Regions from separate parts of the Homo sapiens genome. Here all the other regions are reported to be linked to region 1. The links are microRNA targets in miRTarBase. Many come from high-throughput screens and were not tested one by one. Region 1 holds a microRNA gene; each other region holds the end of a gene's coding sequence.
What was found. Region 1 holds the annotated microRNA hsa-miR-8084 (GAAUACUAAGUAAAAAAUCAGUA, at 2,695-2,717, shown strand). A microRNA usually pairs through its seed, bases 2 to 8, with sites in the 3' UTR of a target mRNA and lowers its output. Matches are read on the target gene's strand: a 7mer-m8 pairs with bases 2 to 8, a 7mer-A1 pairs with bases 2 to 7 and ends in A, and an 8mer does both.

Region 1 (4,154 bases):
CAGAGACGGATATCTCTGCTTTGAAAGATAATTTTCAGGGGTCCAAGCAGAACAAATGAAATCTTTACGGGTTCAAGCTTCTGATCATGTGTCAATCCCTGAATGCAGTATTTCCAGGAATGACCCAACAGTTTCATATATTGTGAAATATTTGAGATCGTGTCGTCATTTATTCCTGGAAGAGCCACTGGCCAAGAGAGAGGGGGAGGGGGTGAGCGTTTCTGGGAATGGTCTGAAAAAGTGGTGACCCCAATTGTTTTGATGTAGCTGAAGACATAGTTAAAGGAAAGGCATATAAGCGTGTGCAAATAATGGGAAATGGTTAATCTATGTAGTTTATGGAAAGGAAATATTCTGGGCTTTGAAATGCTAATTTACTAGAATTATTATTCAAATTCAAAGAAAAAACATGTTTCCAGGAAGCTCTGCTTGACCCCCTGTCTTCCCCAACTCAGAATGGGTTTTGGGTCTCTCTCCCTACATTTCTAAATTGATTGCATAAAGCTTTCACAGAGCACTCACAAGATCATATTGTAATAATTTTTGTGTTTATGACCTACTACTTCTTCAAGAACAGTGATTATATTTTGAAACAACTGTTTAATTCCAGATCTTGTCATGATGTCAGATGTAGAGTAAATGTTCAAGAAATGCTTACTGAAAAATTAATGAATGAATAAAAAATGAATAGATCTCCAAATGGCCAATTTGCCATTTTATTTCCCCAGTACTCCATGGCTATTTTAAATGTTTAATTTGTAATCAAGATGTCTTTAAAAATACCTTTTATCCCTGTCTTTAATTATATTTTTCATATGACCAGAAATACTTACTTTTGTATCCTTCTCTTTCATTTACCCATATGTCCTACTAGGAAGGATGTGGTGGGATGAGTGTTATTTGGTGTTAGTACATCCAGTATAGTTTACAAATTCAAGAAAGACAGAGTGGTTCAAGAATGAACTATGTGTTTAGGGAGCTGGACAGGGGACATTGCGACAGCTGTCAGTGCTTGGAGTGATGGTTACACTTCTAGCCACGAAATGAACCCTTGAGAAAGCAAGTTATTGAAAAGACTGGTTGAGCCCCATGGAAGATGATGATAACCAGTCCTCAGATTACTACTTATATTTTAAATATCCCCAGTAAAGTCCAGATACACATATTTCACCTGTTTAAAGAGTTTTGCAGGAGTGTTCAGGTGCTTGTTGGTAATTTCATTCTAGATCTCAGTATCTTAACTGGAGGAAGGAATAGCAGAGAAAATACAGTACAAAAAGCAAGACTCAACTTCTGCACACAAAGAGAATACAAAGAATTGTCTTAGGTAAGAAGAAAATAGGTGAATCACGCTCATGCGTTAAGTTAAATATCAGACCCTTTTATTTTTCTATAGAAAATATTTTATGAGAATAAGATATATCTATATTGAATTTCAAAAGTTAAATATTTCTGTGGTCCAACGCTTACAGAATTGATCATTCCACTAGGAGGATAGTCTGTGAATCTCAAAAGGCTATACCATTTTCTTTTTACTTCTGAGAAAAATATTCTTTGGCAGAGTGAGAATGTTTAAAATATTTTATTTGTTTTCAGATACTGGCATCTTGCCCTTCATATTTTTAGACTTTAAGCACTAACCCTCTATTTTGATTACATTGTTGACAAATACAGAGCATTCATTTTTTGGTAACTGCTTGGCTGGCTCCCTCACTTCCCTCAAATCTTTGCTCAAATTTCTTCCAATCCAAGTCTTTCTTTACCATTCTACCTAAAATAGCCCTGCTCCATCACTCTATCCCCATATCCTTTTTGAAAAATTGTTCTCAGGACACTGATATATTATTTATTTTTAATGCTATTGTATATGTCCTCCCACTTTAATAGAAGTTTCATGAAAACATGATGTTTATTATTTATTTATAGCTGAAACCCCAGGGACTATAACAGTGCCTGGCATATCATAGGTGCCCCATAAATATTTCTAGAATAGAGAGAACAGAATGTGTTAGTTGCAAAAGCATCTTCTGTTTTCAGAAAGGCAGGTAATTTATTAAAGTTGGAATACAGAATGTATATGGGAGTGTAGTGACCAGATGTGCATTTTAGAAAGTTCATTTTGACATCATGCACAGGACAGTTCATTTTTATAGCAGTTTTAATGAGCAATATTTTTATAAGACTGGATTTTATCACTTTCGATGGACTTTAATAAGTATTGAATTGAAATAAACATTAACTGAGCATCAAGAAAGAAAATAAGAAACAAGGGTCCTGGGTAATCTATAAATTGATGTTTCTTAAGTAATTAGACATCAACTTGGCTTGGTATATTTCAAATGCCCTTGGTTCTTGAGAGTACCATTTTCTTCCTTTTTTCATCTTCAAGGACTTCTATACATAGAAGAAGAAATCTACATTTACTATAGACATTAAGGGAGGTGTGTTTAATCTTATGCATAGCTCAGAAGGACAAGTAGAGCCAGAACTCAATTGCTTCCTAGATTCGTGGTTCTTATATCCAATGTAACCCAAAAGCACATGCCATTATTCTGACAGGAGGTGCAAAAGCATTCAGTCAAATTCAGAATAATGCTACCTCTCTGATCCCAGCAACCGTTCATGGCTGTGCCCATCTCAGTGAAATCCTTCTTTTAGAATCTTAACTAATTTGATAAGATAGACAGATAAATAGAATACTAAGTAAAAAATCAGTATGGATTAAATTTATATTTTCCTCGATACTGAGTATTTTTTCTTAGGTTTAGTTTGGGTTTCCTCTTTTATGAGTTGCATATTCATATCCTGCGTCTATTTTTTTCTATTGGTTGTTTGTATTTTTCTTCCACATTCATTAAAATTCTTTGCCTATTCTGGATACTAATACTTGGAGGAATTACAGATTGCAAATATCTTCTCAATTTCTTTTCACTTTCTTTCTGGTGTCTTTTGATGTATAAAAGTATTTACTCTGATGCAGCCAAATTAACTAAGCATTCCCTTTATGGTTTGTGGAGTTTTTAAATTGTTTTTTAAGTCTTATTTCAGGATCTTTCTATATCCTAAGGTTACAGAGAATTTTCTCCTATAATTCCCTGACCATCTGATATGGTTTGGATGTGTGCCACTCCAAATTTCATAAGAAATTGTGATTCCCAGTGTAGGAGGTGGGGTCTAGTGGGAAGTCTCTGGGTCACAGACAGATCCCCCATGAATGGCTTGGTACTGTCCTCATGGTAATGAGTGAGTTCTCACTCCATTAGTTCACCAGAGAGCTGGTTGTTTAAAAAAAGTTGGCACCTTCTCCCCTCTCTCTCACTCCTGCTCTCAACAGGTGACACGCCTGCTCCCACTTAACCCTCTGCCGTGAGTAAAAGCATCCTGAGACCTCACCAGAAGCCAAGCAGGTGTTTGTGCCATGCTCGTACAGCCTGCAGAACTGTGAGCCAAATAAGCTTCTTTTCTTGATAAGTTATCCAGTCTCAGGTTTTCTTTCATAGTAATGCAAAACCAACAAGTACACCATTCTACTTAAAATTGCAACCCTAGCCCCAGCTCTGCAGGCACTCATTACTTCCCTCTCCCCATTGGCTCTAGTTGTCTTGTTTACTTGTTACTTGTTACTTGTTTCTAAGTTTGCTTGTTTATGTTTTTATTATGTCTTAATGAATTATATGTATACTTCATAAAAGCAAAGATATTTGTATTTTATTTTCACTGATGTATCCATTATACACACAAAATTGCTTGGTACAAGTAGATGTTTAATAAATTACAAATGTAATTAGTAAATGGACATTTCTTCTAAAAGTTTTAAAGCTGTGCCTTTTACATTTAAAATTTTAAATTTCTTGGCATAATTTTTTGTGTATGTGGCATAAAGTACTATTCTAAATTTTATGTTTTCCAAATGGATAACAAATTGTCCTAGCAGCAGTTTTTCAATAGCCCAACAACTCAAACATCTATGTTGCTTCCCTATATATATATATTTTCATATATTGTATTCACTAGAATGCAAGCTCCATGAAATCAGTGACTTTCCTTTGTTACCTGCTTTTTCCTCATTGCTAGAACCATGCTTATCACGATGGAATATTATACAGAAATAAGAACAAAAATGATCTATAATGGCATGCAGCAATATGAAAAAA
Region 2 (4,154 bases), not on the chromosome of region 1:
TGACTCAAACTGGGTCAAAATTTTCTCTCCTAAAACTTCAAGTGGGGCTAATGGAGGTTGCCTCTGTGTAAGCTTGGGAGCTGGGGGGCAGCCGGTCGGGAAGCGGCTGAGTAACAAAGTTGGTCTCCTCGAAGAGCAAAATATAGTAGCGCAGAAATGGAGAGCTGTAGGAGTTCTTGGTCCATGTTTCTGGAATCTTCCTAAGGCTCAACCATTTTCATTCTTGCGTTAATTGCTCACTTTTGCTTAAGCTAGCCCATTTGTCCTTACATTATTAACAACAAACAGAAAGGCAGGATATAGATAGCCCCGAGGTGTTCCAGGATTTAAGTAGCTGCAGTCTGTTCCACGCTAACCTACCCTTCAGCAAAGCTGCAGCATGGAATGTGCTCGTAGCCTCTGAGACCTGCTTTCTCTAGAAGGAGCTGGAGGTTACACGCAGGGGTCTCCTCCATTCCTATATAAAATGAATGGTTGGCCAGGCGTGGTGGCTCACGCCTGTAATCCCAGCACTTTGGGAGGCCAAGGCGGGTGGATCACCTGAGGTCAGGAGTTCAAGACCAGCCTGGCCAACATGGCAAAACCCTTCTCTACTAAAAATACAAAAATTAGCTGGGCATAGTGGTGGGTGCCTGTAGTCCGACCTACTCGGGAGGCTGAGGCACGAGAATGGCTTGACCCTGGGAGGCGGAGGTTGCAGTGAGCCGAGATCATGCCACTGCACTCCAGCCTGGGAGACAAAGCGAGACGACATCTCCCAAAAATAATAAAATAAAATAAAATTAATGGTTGACCTGTTACTTCCACAACGGGAACAGTCGTCAGCCGTCAGATTAATAAGGGACCTAGGGCCACAGAGCAGCAAGGACACTCAATAATGCCAAACCAGCTATTTTTTTGTGTGTGTTTAGTAAAATATAATACACAATTTACCACTTTGACCCTTTTTTTGTTCTTTTTTTTAGACAGCGTCTTGCTCTGTTGCTTCGGCTGGAGTGCAATGGTGAGATCCTGGTTCACTGTAGCCCTGACCTCCCAGGCTCAGGTGATCCTCCCAACTCAGCATCCCAAGTAACTGGGACCACAGGTGTGCACCACCATGCCCAGCCAGTTTTTTTTGTTGTAGAGTTGCAGTCTCACTATGTTGCCCAGGTTGGTCTTGGACTGGGCTCAAGCAATCCTCCCACCTCAACCTCCCAAAGTGCTGGGATTACAGGTGTGAGCCGCTGTGCTCAGCCCATTTTAACAATTTTTAAGCATATAATGTAGTGGCACTAAGTATATTCACAAAGTTTTGCAACAATCACCACCATCTATTTCCAGAACTTCTTCATTATCCCAAACAGAAACTCTGTACTCATTATACCATAACTCCCTATTTTCCCTTCTCCCTAGCCTCTGGTTACTTTTAATCTACTTTCTTTATAAATTTACCAATTCTAGGTACCTCCTATCAAGGGAATTGTAGAATATTTGTTCTTTTGTGTCTGGCTTATTTCAATGAACATAACGTACTCAAGATTCATCCATGTTGCAGCATTTAAGGTGGAATTCTAGCCCATCATATGGATAGGCCACGTATTGTTTATCCATTTATCTGTTGAAGGACACTTGAGTTTGCACCTTTTGGCTGTTGTGAATAATGCTGCTATCAACTTTGGTGTTCTGATGTTTGAATGTAATGGCATTCAGGGACATTTTGATCCTTCTTTCCTGGTTTTCTTTTTGTAATGTTAAGGAGGAACCCAAATGGAATCAAGGAGTGGAACATAAAAATCGGTTTCTTATGCCTCTGCACTTCACCTTTCTCCTGTTCATCCCACTCTGCCATCATTGCCTGCTTGCCTCCGAATTGCCCACGACAGTGCAGTCTGGGCACGGATCACACCTCCCATGCAGCGGTGGCTTTGTGATCTGTCCACCTGGGTAAGCTGAACCACACTTCCCAGAATTCCCTTCCCGTGTGTTTCCGGTTAGAGTGGAGCACAGAGGAGAAACTTGTGGAAGGTTTGGAGGTGGGAAGTGAAGCAGCAGTCATTTTACAGCTCACACGAATTGTGGCTTCTCTGCTGGCTCACCTCAGCAGAGGCAGGAACTGACATGGGGCCGGGTGCAGTGGCTCACGCCTGTAATCCCAACACTTTGGAGAGGCCAAGGCAGGTGGATTGCTTGAGACCGGGAGTTCAAGACCAGCCTGGGCAACATGGCAAAACCCTTCTCTACAAAAAATACAAACATTAGCCAGGTGTGGTGGCTCATGCCTGTAGTCCTAGCTACTTGGGAGGCTGAGTTGGGAGGATTTGCTTGAGACCAGGAAGGTCAAGGCTGCAGGGAGCTGAGATTGGGCCATGACACTCCAGCCTGGGCAACAGAGTGAGACCCTGTCTCAAAAAAACAAAAAAGAACTGACACAGACGGATGTGTCTGCCTTCAAGGGCTTCCACTTGGGCTTGTCCTCCCTTACTTTATATCCGTCTGTCCTTCCCGATTGTCTGCAGAGCCTGCTTAAGCAGCCCCAGTGCCAGTGACTGTGTAAGGTCAAATTCCCACAACAAATCTCTTCAAACAAGTACCTCTTAGTGGTTCTGCTTTTCTGATGAAACCCTGATGGGTACACACTCATTTATTCATTCAACCAAAAAATATTAACTGATAAAAAATACTGAACACTACCATGCACCAGATACTAGGTGCTAGGTAGTGAATAAAACAAAGTTCCTGCCACCATGGTGTGAGGTGTACTGTCATATCCCCAAGATATACCCCACTGCTGAATGAGCGTCTGAGGACCAGGTGCTGGTGCTGACTCCTCTGTTGACACCTGTGTGACTTTGGATCAGAATCCTTTAATCTCTCCACATCTAGATTTCTTCATTAGTAAACTGGGGTGAGCAACCTCCCAATCTACTTCTCATATAAATGCAGGTGGGGCCGGGCACGGTGGCTCACGCCTGTAATCCCAGCACTTTGGGAGGCTGAGGCGGGCGGATCAACTGAGGTTGGGAGTTCGAGACCAGCCTGACCAACACGGAGAAACCCCGTCTCTACTAAAAATACAAAATTAGCCGGGTGTGGTGGTGCATGCCTGTAATCCCAGCTACTCAGGAAGCTGAGGCAGGAGAATTGTTTGAACCCAGGAGGTGGAGGCTGTGGTGAGCCAAGATCGGGCCATTGCACTCCAGCCTGGGCAACAAGAGCGAAACTCCGTCTTAAAAAAAAAAAAAAATGCAGGTGGAGTTAATAGGAGTTGAAAGACATTTGCAAACCAAATAGCTCTCAAAATAATTAAACAAAACAAAAACCAGTCCAGGACATTGTCATAATTTTTTATTATGTATCAAATTGTCTTCAATATAAGTTACAACTTGATTAAAGTTGATAGACATTTGTATCTATTTAAAGACAAAAAAATTCTTTTATGTACAATATCTTGTCTAGAGTCTAGCAAATATAGTACCTTTCATTGCAGGATTTCTGCTTAATATAACAAGCAAAAACAAACAACTGAAAAAATATAAACCAAAGCAAACCAAACCCCCCGCTCAACTACAAATGTCAATATTGAATGAAGCATTAAAAGACAAACATAAAGTAACTTCAGCTTTTATCTAGCAATGCAGAATGAATACTAAAATTAGTGGCAAAAAAACAAACAACAAACAACAAACAAAACAAAACAAACAAACAAAAAATCCCACCAATCTTCATGGGTAAACTTTCCTGCTCAGGGATGTAAGCTGACTCTAGACCATCTCGCGGTTCCTGCGGATAGCACAGCACAAGATCATACTGAAGATCATGCCAAATATCTAGGAGATAGGAAGAAACATGAGGATCAGGGTGGTTTGATCTGAAGGAAGGCTGAGGGAAAGGGAGAGACATGGGTCACCCAGTCCAAGAAAAATGACAAGGAGAATGGCATCCAGGAGGCCAAACGAGTCAGAAGGTGCTGAAGCAGGAGAGATGCAGGCCAGATAATGAGAAGGGTGCGGGACGTGAGGAATCTGGGGGGGTTGGCAGTCAGCTGCACAAGCATTTTCCTTGGAGAACTTTCAGGGTGGGAAAGTAAGCTCAGAGCCAAATTTAATGCTCAAATTCCAGGTTTTCCTATAGTCCTAGTCCATACAGGTTAGTACTTTTGCATTTGTCTTTGT
Region 3 (4,154 bases), not on the chromosome of region 1:
GTAACAGTTCTCTATCTTTTCATTCTGCCCGCTCCTCCCACAGCCTGGTCCCTCAGAGGAAAGGAAGGACAAGGAGTGCTTTGCAGCACGTGCCCCTGGCGGCGTCATGGTACTTTCCTGGCCCTGCTGCCCCTGCCCGTCCGTCTTTTATGATTTTTATTTACTCGTATTGGTTTTTTTAAATTTCTATTTTTTGCAGAACTGAGCCTTTTTCTGCCCTGCCTTTCTCCTGTTTGTCTTTCCTTTGTGGTTGATATTGTGTTGTCTTCTCCAAAGTATTTGTCATTAGAAACTTACAGCAAGCGTATACTTTTTAGCATGTCAGTATTTTTATTATGTTGCCCTCCTTGTCTTTGATAACTGCCTGTGGACGCTGTGTAAACTTTCTGGTAAAAATCCTTTTTTTTCCCCCTGTAGTCTCTCCATTTCAAGGACTAAAACAGTCTTGCGTTAAGTAAAAACCTGTGACCAGAGCTGAAGGAAGACTCTAGGACTGAAAACTGCAACAGAAATTAGCACAATTTGAAAACAAAACAAAATTGCAAAAGCCTTAGTTGCTTTTTCCACCTAAGAAGTTGATCAATGGAGAAAATGTCCACTGGAGTTTGAATAATGAACTTTGAGTTTGGGTGCAAGCAAATGACTCAGAGAAGGGTCCAGCTCTCAAGCTGAATGACAAACATGCTGTTGTAAATTTAGTCTCAGGTGTAAATACCCAAGCCCTCTGGTACCCAGGGAGCTGGCTGGTCTGTGGTGCATGTGTGTCCCTGTGATGGCAATCATTGTAGTTGCTGGCCTTCAGAAGAATTGAGGATCTGATGGAGGTTTTTTATGTATTTATTTTCTGTTCACCTTGTGACCCTGTGTCAAAATTTATAAAGATACAAAAGGCATTACTGAAATGGTACTTTCTGTAATTTGATACTATTTGGCTTAATCATCTTCACTTGACTATTTGTAATACTGTTGTAATGTTAACTCTGTTAAGTACCCAAGCTGCTTGTCTTCCACCAAAGAGTGCTTTATTAACAAGAATCTGTGAAAATCACATTTAAACACTGTTGCATGTTGTAAGACCAGGTGGTACCTTAGTAACCTAAAACTTGCAAGAGAATATTAATGGTAGCTTTAGAAGACTCAGGAGGAGAAACTGACTTCAGAGTTGGAAGATGTTGCAAGTCGTTCCTTTTTCTGTCCTTCAGGGACTGAAGAACTGGGAGGCTGCCCATTGTTTGGTTGCCAGTCATACAAATTAAAATCATATTTCCTTCCATGAATGGAAGAAACACACTATTGGTTTTTCCCCTTGGAAACAGCAATCCCAAATAATGTCGGCTTACAAAAAAAAAAAGTTACCACTTTTTTAGAGTCCTTCCCTGTAACATTGGATTTTTTTTTTCCCTTATGAGATCCACCTAAGGCCATTGACGTGGCCTGCGATCTCAGTGACAATGATCTGCTTCTGGATCTCACTGTTGCCTTTGGTTAGGGAACACAACTAGTAACTCTGCAGAGTGCCTTCTCCCGCAGCCCTACTGGAACACAGCAGAGTCTGTGCCATGAAGCAGTTACAGAAACAGAATTGATGTGCTGCTAAAAAAAAAAAAAAAAATGGGGCCCGAAATAAAAGAATATATAGTACTCACCTCAGTTCCTTCCATAAGAAGTGGGTGGTTTAATGATTGTTAAGCCATTTTTGCCTGTGCCGGGAGCATGGAGGGCTGAGATGTCGACAGGCAGTGGGAAACAAATGCCCTCCTAAGCCACAAGGCGTGCGCCAGATTAGTAGGCAACTCCATTTTAAGAAGCTGCCTTTTTCACAAAACTGGAAGAAATAAAAGCGGTTGGAATAAACAAGTTAAAAGTCTTTAATGCAAAAAGTAATTGAAAGGCAGTGCCTCCATTTTGGTGTACTTTCTTGGAAGAAAGTATAAAATTGACCGGCATCATGAGAGACGGAAGATGCCGTGTTCTCAGCCAAACAAGCAACTCTTTCCCCGCCAGGCACTGTCGGGTGGGGTCAGGCCAGCTTTTAAACACTGGGGACTGGATCACAGAAAAACAGTGGTTTTCTGTCCCTGGAAATGAATAGGCACAAAGACCCACTTGGCTGTGGGCAGACTACTCTTCAATAAGATTTGGGTGGGAGGAGGAACATTCCTTTTGCTATTTTGAGCTGAGACAATATAAATATTCAAACTGTGCCATGCATAAAGCATTGAATTCTCAGGGCACCTCTTCTTCCCCTTACCCCTTTTAAGGCCATCCCCTCCATTAATAATAATCCAGGTAGTTGTGAAAATCGTGCTTCTATCTGATCCCTTCTTAGTTTGGCTTTTCATCCCATCAGAACAAGTAAACGTAGGCGCCACAGCTCTTGTGAGTACTGTCTCCCTCACGGTGAATGAGCCTCCTGGTGTTTCGTCCAAGAAAAGAAAGGGTGTCACTGGAACCACAGCCCTTTTTCATTTTATAAACTGCCTCTTCATGTTGCCTGCTCAAGTTTCCACCTAGAATTGCTATCACTGTGGCTCTTTCTAAAAATCTTTCTATTTAACTGGTTCACTGAAATTAGTCATAGAAAACTTGTGATTTGGTGAAGAGGCATTCCTTGTAATAACCAAATGACTTGGGATGGTGTGCATAGCAAGGGCAGTGTTACACTTATGAGGACTGTCTCTAGCATCCAGGAAGTCTCTGGGTCTGAGGGATGGAAAGTTCTTCCTGCTATGAATGAGAGTGGACTCTTCCCCTCACCCCCAACTGAAACCACAAACAACCAGAATCTTCTGGAATTCTGACTTAGAGTCGTTGTTATAGAAGACCTTGTTGCTATGGAACATGAAACTGTGTGTCAGATGGAGAGATCCCCTTAACCTAAGAGCCTTAAATAGCCCTGAAAGTACACTGGGACGGTTTGCGATGGAATTAAAATTGGAAGTGAATATTTTTAGGTGCTCTTGAAGCTTTCTGGGGACTCAAAATTATCAAAAGTCAGGGACAGTCCGGAGGAAGAGCGTCTGCAAAACTGGGTTCCTAGAAGTATAGACGGACTTAGCTTTTTGTAGAATTTGGTGAGGAGCAGCGCCTCGTGAGAGCAGAATGGCCTGGCGTGGCCAGTGCTTCCCGGCAGCACGCAGCTCTGCGGCCTCCAGAATTCCCCTGTTCTGAGCTTGATGCCCCTAGCCTGTCCCCTACCTACTTCCTCCCCTCCTCTCTAGCCCTCTCACAGGGGTGATTGCTACCTCTCTGTTTTCTTGGGCCTAGGCAAGTTTTAGAGGAGTTCCCAAGCATTGTTATGAGGCCAGTGTGCTCGCTGGGCTGGGCGGGATGGCCTGGGCTTGTGTGTGGCCTGAGGGCTCTCCTGGGGCCTTCTCTTTTCCCAGTCACCTTTGGAGCCACAGAAGCAGTGCACTCATTGGATGTCTGTTCTTAACACAGCTTCTCTTTCTACATTAAAAAAAATCATTATTGCATTTTGGAAAGCAGTGCTCATCAAAAGCAACTTTTAAAACCTATTTTATTGTTCCTTTAAATGTTCTCTCCCGCTGAAACTGCCCTGGAGAGGCTATCTGCTGCTCTTCCATTTACCCACATCAGGTTATTCTCCATGTCACTCAGTGGAGATGACTCCAGATGTGTTTAAAGACTGGACAATTCACCTATACTGTGTAGGAAATTACCTCCTTAATTACCTGGTAGAATTGTCAGCAGACATGTTCATCCGATGATAGTACTGCAGTTTTCTATTAATAATTTGCAGACTTTTATCTAACCTGCACTCATGTACAGATTATTAAAAGTTTTAAAATGTAACTGATCAGTATTGATCAATCATTGTCTTGATTTTTTTTTACAGCGTATATTTCTAATCATATTTTTTAAAGCCAAGAGAACTGGTTGAATGAATGTTTATTTTCCTGAAGGTATTTTTAAGATAAAGCTTCCTAATGGCGTGTAAACTTTGCATATGTATGTAGTTTGATACATATTGTCACATTTGAAAATCTTGTGGGTTGTAACTGGTTTTATACAAAATATCGAATAGTGGAAATTGTATAATTACAATCATGTAATTAAAAGTATTAACCCAACAGCCTTTTTGTTTATTGTGTTACTTACCAAGCATTTTGAATTCTGGTAGGCAGTGGGTT
Region 4 (4,000 bases), not on the chromosome of region 1:
TCTGTTCGAAGCAAATCGAGAGCTCCCCTCAGCAGTAGCAGCAGCAGCGCCAGTTCCATCACTTCACCCAGCAGTAATGTGACAACCCCCAACAGCCAGAGGTCTCCTGGTCTCATATACCGAAATGCCAAAAAGTCCAACACATCCAATGAAGAGTTTAAGCTGTTACTGCTCAAGAAAGGCAGTCGCTCAGATTCTAGTTACCGCATGTCTGCCACTGAGATCCTGAAGAGCCCCATACTGCCCAAACCTCCTGGGGAGCTCACAGCAGAGTCCCCTCAGAGCACCGATGATGCCCATCAGGGGTCACAAGGGGCTGAGGCATTGTCCCCACTCTCTCCATGCTCCCCACGAGTTAATGCAGAAGGCTTTTCCTCGAAGAGCTTTGCCACCTCAGCATCAGCAAGGGTTGGACGTTCTCGGGCCCCTCCTGCAGCCAGCAGCAGCCGCTACAGTGTCCGCTGCCGGCTGTACAATACGCCCATGCAGGCAATCTCCGAGGGAGAGACGGAAAATTCTGACGGGAGCCCACATGACGACCGTTCCTCCCAGAGTTCAACATAGACTGCCTGTACCAGGCTGCCTGGCAAAGGCCAAAACCCTTACTCACATGAGGATGGAGGAACAGAACAGAGGACTTGGGAAAAGTCTCAACTTGATGGGGTAGCATCACTGCTAAGCAATGAATGAATTTCTAAATACAGTATGTGCTGGGTAAACAGAAAGTGGTTTAGACATTCTTGATTAGTTTCCATATTTTAAGTAGCTGCAGTCTTTCATGTTTTTCTTTAGCATAGTTTGATTTACGCAATCTCCTTCCTTGTGAAAATAGAGGATACAAAATTGTCTAATTTTCATGACACCTAGAAAACGTTTTCCCAGAGCTGCCTATTCAGAAACTAAAGCCCTCACTGTCATTATTCTTTAAGAAGATGAAATTACTCTGGATGTTTGGTATTTTTTTACATTAAAACAAACTAAAGCAAAATTTAGAAGAAAGAACTACACATATGTAAATACCATATTTTTGATAAAAATGTGTAAATAGATTTATCAATGATGAGTGGACATGTGGTCAATTATCTACTGCACACCAACTGTTTATAGAATACACAAAAATAAAATGTAATAACTGTATTCTGTGAATACCATTTTCATATCAAATGCCATATTTAAATGTCCACCAATATGATTTCTGAGTGGTAAACCTCAAATATGAATTTTAAACTGGTGAACTAAAGGAAATCTTGAGGTCATATACTGAAATATGAATAAATTAAAATAATGAATTCAGATCTAATCATTTTTATGACAAATTGCAGCACCAAACAAACTAATAGCAACCCATGGCTGTGATTTGTTGTGTGGTAATTTGGACAGAATGAAAAGCATGCTTTTGATTTTTTTTTTAATCAGTGAGAGAAGTCATCATTCTCAACACAAAGCCCTGAACAACAGCATTTGACAGTGTCCTTTAGATTTTAATTTTTTCAATGGATTGCTTTAAAGAGAATGAGTAGGGAAAATAGTAGTTAATTTTAGGTTATGTTTTATATTAGGCTACTGGGGACATAAACGGTCATAACTAATGACTGTAATCATTAAACTCCTTAAACAGTTTAGAAATTAGCTCCAGGTTCTTAAACTAACAAAAATAAAACCTAAGCATGCCACAGAGCTATTGATTAATCAGTAAGTACCTGTAATGAGTTTTCAGTGAAGCTTTCTCTCTGTGCTGATGAGATTCATGCTACCTAAAAATTAACAGAAATGACACTGTGAACAATGTAGTTGGAAAATAGGTATGTGTATATGCATTATTTATACTCATTGTTAAACTGGGAATGGGGAACAGCTCTGGTTCACAATACTACATACAACTGAGTTTTTGTCTGGTTTTACTATAGTGTCTGCTTGATGGCAAAAGGGGAGGGTGGAGGGTGGGAGAGGAAATGTCAGGGCATGTGCTCTGATAAAATAAAGGCAGGGAAACAAGCTGAATTACTTGAAATTACTTGAATTTTCTTGTCTTAAAACTGAAAAAAAAATGTAGTTACACGTTAAAATCTGCAAATGGTTTTTACACCTCTGATTTTAACATGAACTTATACTAATGTTTGGAATCTTATGTCAGAAATATAAGCAGCTATGTACTTAGAATAGGTTTTGAATGGGAGAGGTAGAACAGAGAGAGAATTAAGAAGGGATCTGACTTATAAAAGACTAGAATGTGATTAGAGTGATAGAACATACCAATGTTACCAAGAAATTGACAAGCTGCTGGCTTTAAGCTTATGCAAGTGGTAGTTGGGAAAGTAGGAGGTGTGGAAGAGGGTTTGCATTTTGGATTAATTCATGCAAAATGAAGGAGGAAGCCTGGTCTAAGAAGATACTGTCTTTCAATAGAAATGATTTCTAAACTGCTACAGATTAAGAATAGATAATCTGATTGCTGTTGTTTTGTTTGTTTGGAAAGAAAAAAAATGTCTGGCTTCTTCTACTATTTGTTTTCACTACCAAACTGTGTTACTAAATTTCTTGTCATCCTTGTATGTAAAATGGGTGCTGGGGGTGGAGGGGTATAAGAGGAGGGAGAGTCAGAGAGAGTGTGTATGGGTGTGTGTGAGTGTGAGTGTGTGTGTACGCACACACACTGGGGATAGATAAGCTACCTGGTAAAGGGTTTGAACATTTACAAAATGTCACACTTTTTCTTAAAAGAAAAATATTTTGGGGTTTGAATAAAATGGACCACCATTTCTCATTGGAACCCATTAATTAAGAAAACCAGCATGGTTTGACACCACATGGGAACATGAATAAATCTGTCTCATGATTTGAAAAGTACACCTTGCAAAGTTTTAAAAATAAAGTTTTTAGGCAAATGCGATAAGAAACCGTCATTTCCAGTCACAGTAGGCGATCTTTCGTAATTTCATAAAAGCAGTTCGTTTGCAGTATGGCTTTTGTGTAGTTAGGGGTTTTTTAAGTGTGAAGAAAGGTATGTGGGCTTTAAAAGTGATTCTAAATCTTGAATAGAAAACACATGAATTGGCTTTAATAAAAATGTCACCTTTTTATTATTGACATTAAGTAATGGTACCATATATTTTTTAAAATACATATTGACTTGAATTGTGAGGCAATAAGATACCTTCTATATGTAATGATCACAGAACTAACCCTTATAATATAGTTTTACTTATTTTGTTTACTCTAAAAATCTATAGCAGAGTTTCTCTATTTTATATTTCATAGATTTAAAAAACCCAAATAAAGATGGATTTAAAATTCACTGTGGAAAAGAGTATTGAGTTACAAACTGAGAAGAAAAAGCAGGAAGTTCCCTAATAATCTGGAATATTCTACATGGCTTGATTACATAGCAAACAAGACCAAGATTTAGGGCTGTCTTTAACATCACTGCCGTCTTGAAGCAGGGTACACACGTTAGGTATTGTGAAGAACATCAATCCGAACTTTTCTTCTGTTGTTTGCACTGATGCGATTTTTTGTTCTTTTATGTTTATACAACGTATCTATGTTGTGTAGGGGAAATTTTTTCATTTTTTAAAAATTCTACTTTGGTTTTGTTGTTGTTTTGATTTGTTTTTGGCTAAGTAGAGGACATGGACTAGTTGTAGCAAACAGAACATGCTGTTTGCTCTTGCCAAAGGTCAGTGAGTGAGTGCATTTGCTGCAGTGGTGGCACGTAGAGAACTAGATGGTAATAAAGATTTAAAACTATGAAGAAGGTTACAGTGTAACTATTTTGGTACTAGAACCAGTTCATGCTGGCCGAAACGACAATGGTTTATGGACTTGCATCCATTTTGTATTTTTGTAATATTTGTAAATATGAACTTTTTAAATTGCTGCAAAGATGGTTTCTTTTGTAAGATGTTTTCAACGTTTACATTCAATCCAAGCCTTTGTATATTTTAGAGCTGTGCAACACTTTAAGTCTTGTATTTATTTTTAGTAAAAATGGTGACAGTTT
Region 5 (4,154 bases), not on the chromosome of region 1:
GCATTTTAAACACCTGAAATTAATAAACATTTGTAAAATAACTATTAAAACAATCTATGAACCACACGAATAGCCTTTGATTGCTCCAAACCTGGCTTTGACTATTTTGAGCTTTCTATATTACAACAGACCTTTACTTATACTGTAATTTTTCCTCTATCATTCTGTAAGTTTTGCCTTTCCTGATTGCCTGGATAGTCTTTAGTGGATTTACAGCTTGGTGACAGCCTAGAGAGATTTTCTGTGGTCAAAACATGATTAAATAGAGATTTGTTGGTCAGAAGATAACCATGAACCATAATACCCACAAGGGAAAGAGCCAGATTCAGTTTTGGGTGGGTCGATGGGGATTTACCTCATATGCTTTCTTTTATTTCACAAAATGTGTTCTGTTCTTTACTTTCGTATCTGTAGGAATAGAAATGGGAATGTGGCCTCTAGGGTGTGCTGATGTATGTTTAACAGCTGGCTTTCAAGGAAAAAAAAAAAAAAAAGATCTGATTTGCAGTGTTTACTAATTTTTTTGGTGTAAATACTCTCACCATGGCCAATTTCAAACTACCAACTTGACAGCACTGAAGGCAGAAAAAATGTTCACAGTTGGCTCTTGTAAGCCAGTGCAAGCTTGCTCCAGCACACTACTGGACTAGGAATGATCTGCCTGTAGCCAGGAATGGGAAAATACCTTGCCCATGACAGCTTAAGGTATGAGAGGACAGAATTCTACAAAATACAGAGTTTTTACTTTAAGAAAAATGGATTTACTCATCTACAGTCTGTTTATTTGTAGACTTCGACCTTTTTCTTTTGAATTACTGGCCATATGAGTATGCATTATGTAATAACCTTAGCATTGTAACTTCTATTTCTTTATTCATAAGCAATAACAGTTTCTAAAACTGGCTTGTATTTGAGATTGAAATGATGAGAATCATTTTCAATCCAATTTTTTTTTTTTTTTTTTTTTTTTTGAGATGGGGTCTCACTCTGTTACCCAGAGTGCTGGAGTGCTCACTGCAAGCTCTGCCTCCCGGGTTCACGCCATTCTCCTGCCTCAGCCTCCTGAGTAGCTGGGACGACAGGCACCTGCCACCAGGCCCGGCTAATTTTTTGTACCTTTAGTAGGGATGGGGTTTCACCATGTTAGCCAGGAAGGTCTCGATCTCCTGACCTTGTGATCCACCCGCCTCAGCCTCCCAAAGTGCTAGGATTACAGGCGTGAGCCACCGCGCCCGGCCCAATCTAATTCTTTATACCATGAACCAAATAAATTACCAGTTTTATTTCAGGATATTAGTATAATCTGCATTCTAATATATTTCATAAAAGAAAATATTTTATTTCCATTACATAGGCAAAGTTTGTTTTTTCCCATATCAAAGCCAAATATTATTTGATGTACTGACCAATAATATATGTAGAAAGAATAACAGCAAAATATCTTATTTCTTTATATAATTTAATATATACCCTATTAACACCAGTGTGCAGATGTACAGTACTGACAGTATACTAAATAGTTAGTATTAAAAATTACTTTAAAAATGTTTTCAACATTAGGTACTGGTGGAACCAGAGCTGTTATTTTGTACATCATATCATTTATGTGTTGCAAAGGAAAAGTAAAATTTCCAGTAGCATTAGAAAAAAATGTACTGATATTTTATGTAGATATACAAAATCTCATGACATCTATTGAAAACCTCACAATTCTATTGTGCACTAATAAAAACACCTTTTCAAACAACTTGCACTTATACTGAGTTCATAAAGGCTACTATAAAAATATTGCAAAAGCAATAAAAACACAATATCGTACAAAGTCTTTTGTTTTTTAAAAGTCAAATTTTAAAAGGACTGTATTTATATAAATGTGCAATACTTTTTAGTGACCCTGACTAACATTTTTGTTTAGGATTATCTGATTTTAGAAAACTAAGTTAAATGTTTTTCCTTATTTTCTGTTTCAGAATGAGAAGACACTAAGAATGCACAGAGGTTTAGAAATAAGATTGGGTAAAAGCTTTATGAAGTGGGATAGCAAGCACTCTACATGTTTTACTTGTTGCCCTACCAAAGATACAAATGCCTGACTGCCCCAATTTCTGAAATTTAACTTGAATTCTAAATCTTAACTACCCCCCTTTCCTTTATAATCTTTGAGATGAAAGTGTAAAGATTTTAGGTTCTCTAACAAAACCCAAAATATCACTAAAGCCATTCTCCATTTTCAAAGAATATTTAAAGAAATGCGTATTTCAATATAAAACCTGAAAATGCTGAATTAAGACACCTTAATAACATGGCTAGCCAATTACTGATGTGACTTTAGCCTTAGAAAAAGATTATCAAAATTGGCTAAGTTCCAAATTTAAGCATTTGGTTTTATACTGTTAATATTGTACCTTTCTGATATAGATATCAAAGAAAAATGATCTGATTTTTTTCCTGAAAACAACAGTAAAATACAAATTTTTTGTGAAAAAATCCATGTCAAGATAGGAAATACATTGTTTCAAAACTCAGAATAAGTGTTATGAAAGAACTATAAAATTATAAATTTCTAAAAAAAAATACACTGAAAATGTCTCTCTAGGAAAAAATATGCAACTTGTTAGATACAAGAAAATATGGCATTACCATAGGGTGCAGTCAACTAGGCTATGAGACTTTAAAAACTCACAAAAAGTAATTAGCACCAAAATTGTCTGAAACTTCAAATGATATATTAAAGTAGGTCTAGGTCCAAATGTTACATTTTAAAAAAGTTATATTTAACCTGGGAGCTTTCCCCAGTAATAATAAATATATTATTTTTGACCTTTAGAAAACGTTCTATCTTTACTGATTTTCATCACAATATTAAGGTAGTGTATGCTAATTATCATTTACCTTAGTTTAGGCTGGGTAGGGACAATTGAAATCCAAATATTTCCCAAATAATATGAGATTATTTGGTGGGGAGTGTGAGTGGGGAGAAGTTTTCTAAGTGAAACTTACTTTTAGCTTGTTTCATACTTTTTCTTCTGAAATGTTTTATTGGAACTCTTTATAAGAACTATATTGCTTGATTTGAATTCCATGTCCTGTTATTTTCCCTGTTCACTTTCTGGTGGTGTTACTTAAGATTTGGCATGGGGATAGAGGTGTATAAAGGAGACAGAGATCACAGTAGTGAAACAAGAGTTTTGAATAAGCTAATGTATATTCAAAATATATATTCAACCCTGTTATGATCAAGAGTTTAGTTTTAAGTGACATCCATGTATAAATTTACTTACAAAACAGCCAGCACATGATTTGAAACAAGGCAAACTTTTTCGGTTGTCAAAAAGTGAAATATATAACTTCTTCAATTACATATATGGCTACCAAATGTCAAACAATTCAATTCGGCCATGTTTTACTGTTGCACATAAATAATAACAAGGCAAAGAACAGCAACTAGTCCAAGGGCTTGCAGGCCAAGGAACCACAGCATAACCCAAAAGAAAATGACTATTACTGGTTCCACTATTCGTTCTCCAAAATACATCCTTGTGAAGCCCATGTTGATAAGGTTTTTGTTCAGTTCACCAAAAAGTGTTCCCATTTTCTTGTAGTCATCTCCAACCGGCTCACCAGTGTGGTTCTGTGAGTCTTCAACATCCTTTAAAAAAAAAAAAAAAGACAAAACATGAACATAACATGAGAAATATGTAAACGTCTTTAAGAACCTTAGTTCTTCATCTTCCAAAGTGCTGGGCATACTTCTGATAATTATTCTACAAGTACCTGTTAACACAATGGGAATGTTCTTTTTGATCCTGGAATTGCACAAAAATGACTGCTTAAGTGAAGAATCATGTTTGTATTTCTCTTGTGAGTGACCATGATTTCAGAACACCCTTTTCTGCCACCCTCCTGTTTTATGAGGCAAGGCCTGACTGCTCTGTCCTGGTAAGATTCTTTTTAGACGGTTCCTTTGACACTAAGACGTTAAGAAACCGAGCCTCAGATGACCAAAGCATGTTTGCTGTTATTATTGAGCAATCCTCAGCCACTACTGCTGTGATCTTTGTCTTAGGCTCAGCTAAGCAGACTTCAGCGCAGGCCCTTGCATAGTTTCCTGTTCATTATATAGATGCCCTAAATGCCTCTTATTAATTTCATCA

Region 2: miRTarBase lists CD9 as a target of hsa-miR-8084. Seed matches in the 3' UTR shown: 7mer-m8 at 3,625-3,631.
Region 3: the mRNA of CDC14B is a reported target of hsa-miR-8084. Seed matches in the 3' UTR shown: 7mer-A1 at 4,082-4,088.
Region 4: the mRNA of NHS is a reported target of hsa-miR-8084. The part of its 3' UTR that is shown has no 7-base or 8-base seed match.
Region 5: miRTarBase lists FAM241A as a target of hsa-miR-8084. The part of its 3' UTR that is shown has no 7-base or 8-base seed match.

What each region holds. Positions count from the first base shown.
Region 1 is chr8:93,027,067-93,031,220 of GRCh38, forward strand. MIR8084 (microRNA 8084) reads left to right here and starts at 2,685; the gene lies at 2,685-2,773.
Region 2 is chr12:6,237,418-6,241,571 of GRCh38, reverse strand. It overlaps CD9 (CD9 molecule), which reads right to left. Exons shown (of 8, transcript NM_001769.4): 8 at 3,306-3,809. The coding sequence ends at 3,744. LOC105369625 (a long non-coding RNA gene) reads left to right here. Exons shown (of 5, transcript XR_001748979.2): 4 at 1,739-1,926. Among named protein-coding and RNA genes, the nearest start is that of CD9, 39 kb to the right of the region's middle. RefSeq lists an enhancer at 1-350.
Region 3 is chr9:96,500,053-96,504,206 of GRCh38, reverse strand. It overlaps CDC14B (cell division cycle 14B), which reads left to right. Exons shown (of 14, transcript NM_033331.4): 14 at 418-4,094. The coding sequence ends at 454. Among named protein-coding and RNA genes, the nearest start is that of HABP4, 52 kb to the right of the region's middle.
Region 4 is chrX:17,731,901-17,735,900 of GRCh38, forward strand. It overlaps NHS (NHS actin remodeling regulator), which reads left to right. Exons shown (of 9, transcript NM_001291867.2): 9 at 1-4,000. The coding sequence ends at 564. Among named protein-coding and RNA genes, the nearest start is that of SCML1, 3.6 kb to the right of the region's middle.
Region 5 is chr4:112,186,188-112,190,341 of GRCh38, reverse strand. FAM241A (family with sequence similarity 241 member A) reads right to left here. Exons shown (of 2, transcript NM_152400.3): 2 at 1-3,649. The coding sequence ends at 3,404. Among named protein-coding and RNA genes, the nearest start is that of FAM241A, 43 kb to the right of the region's middle.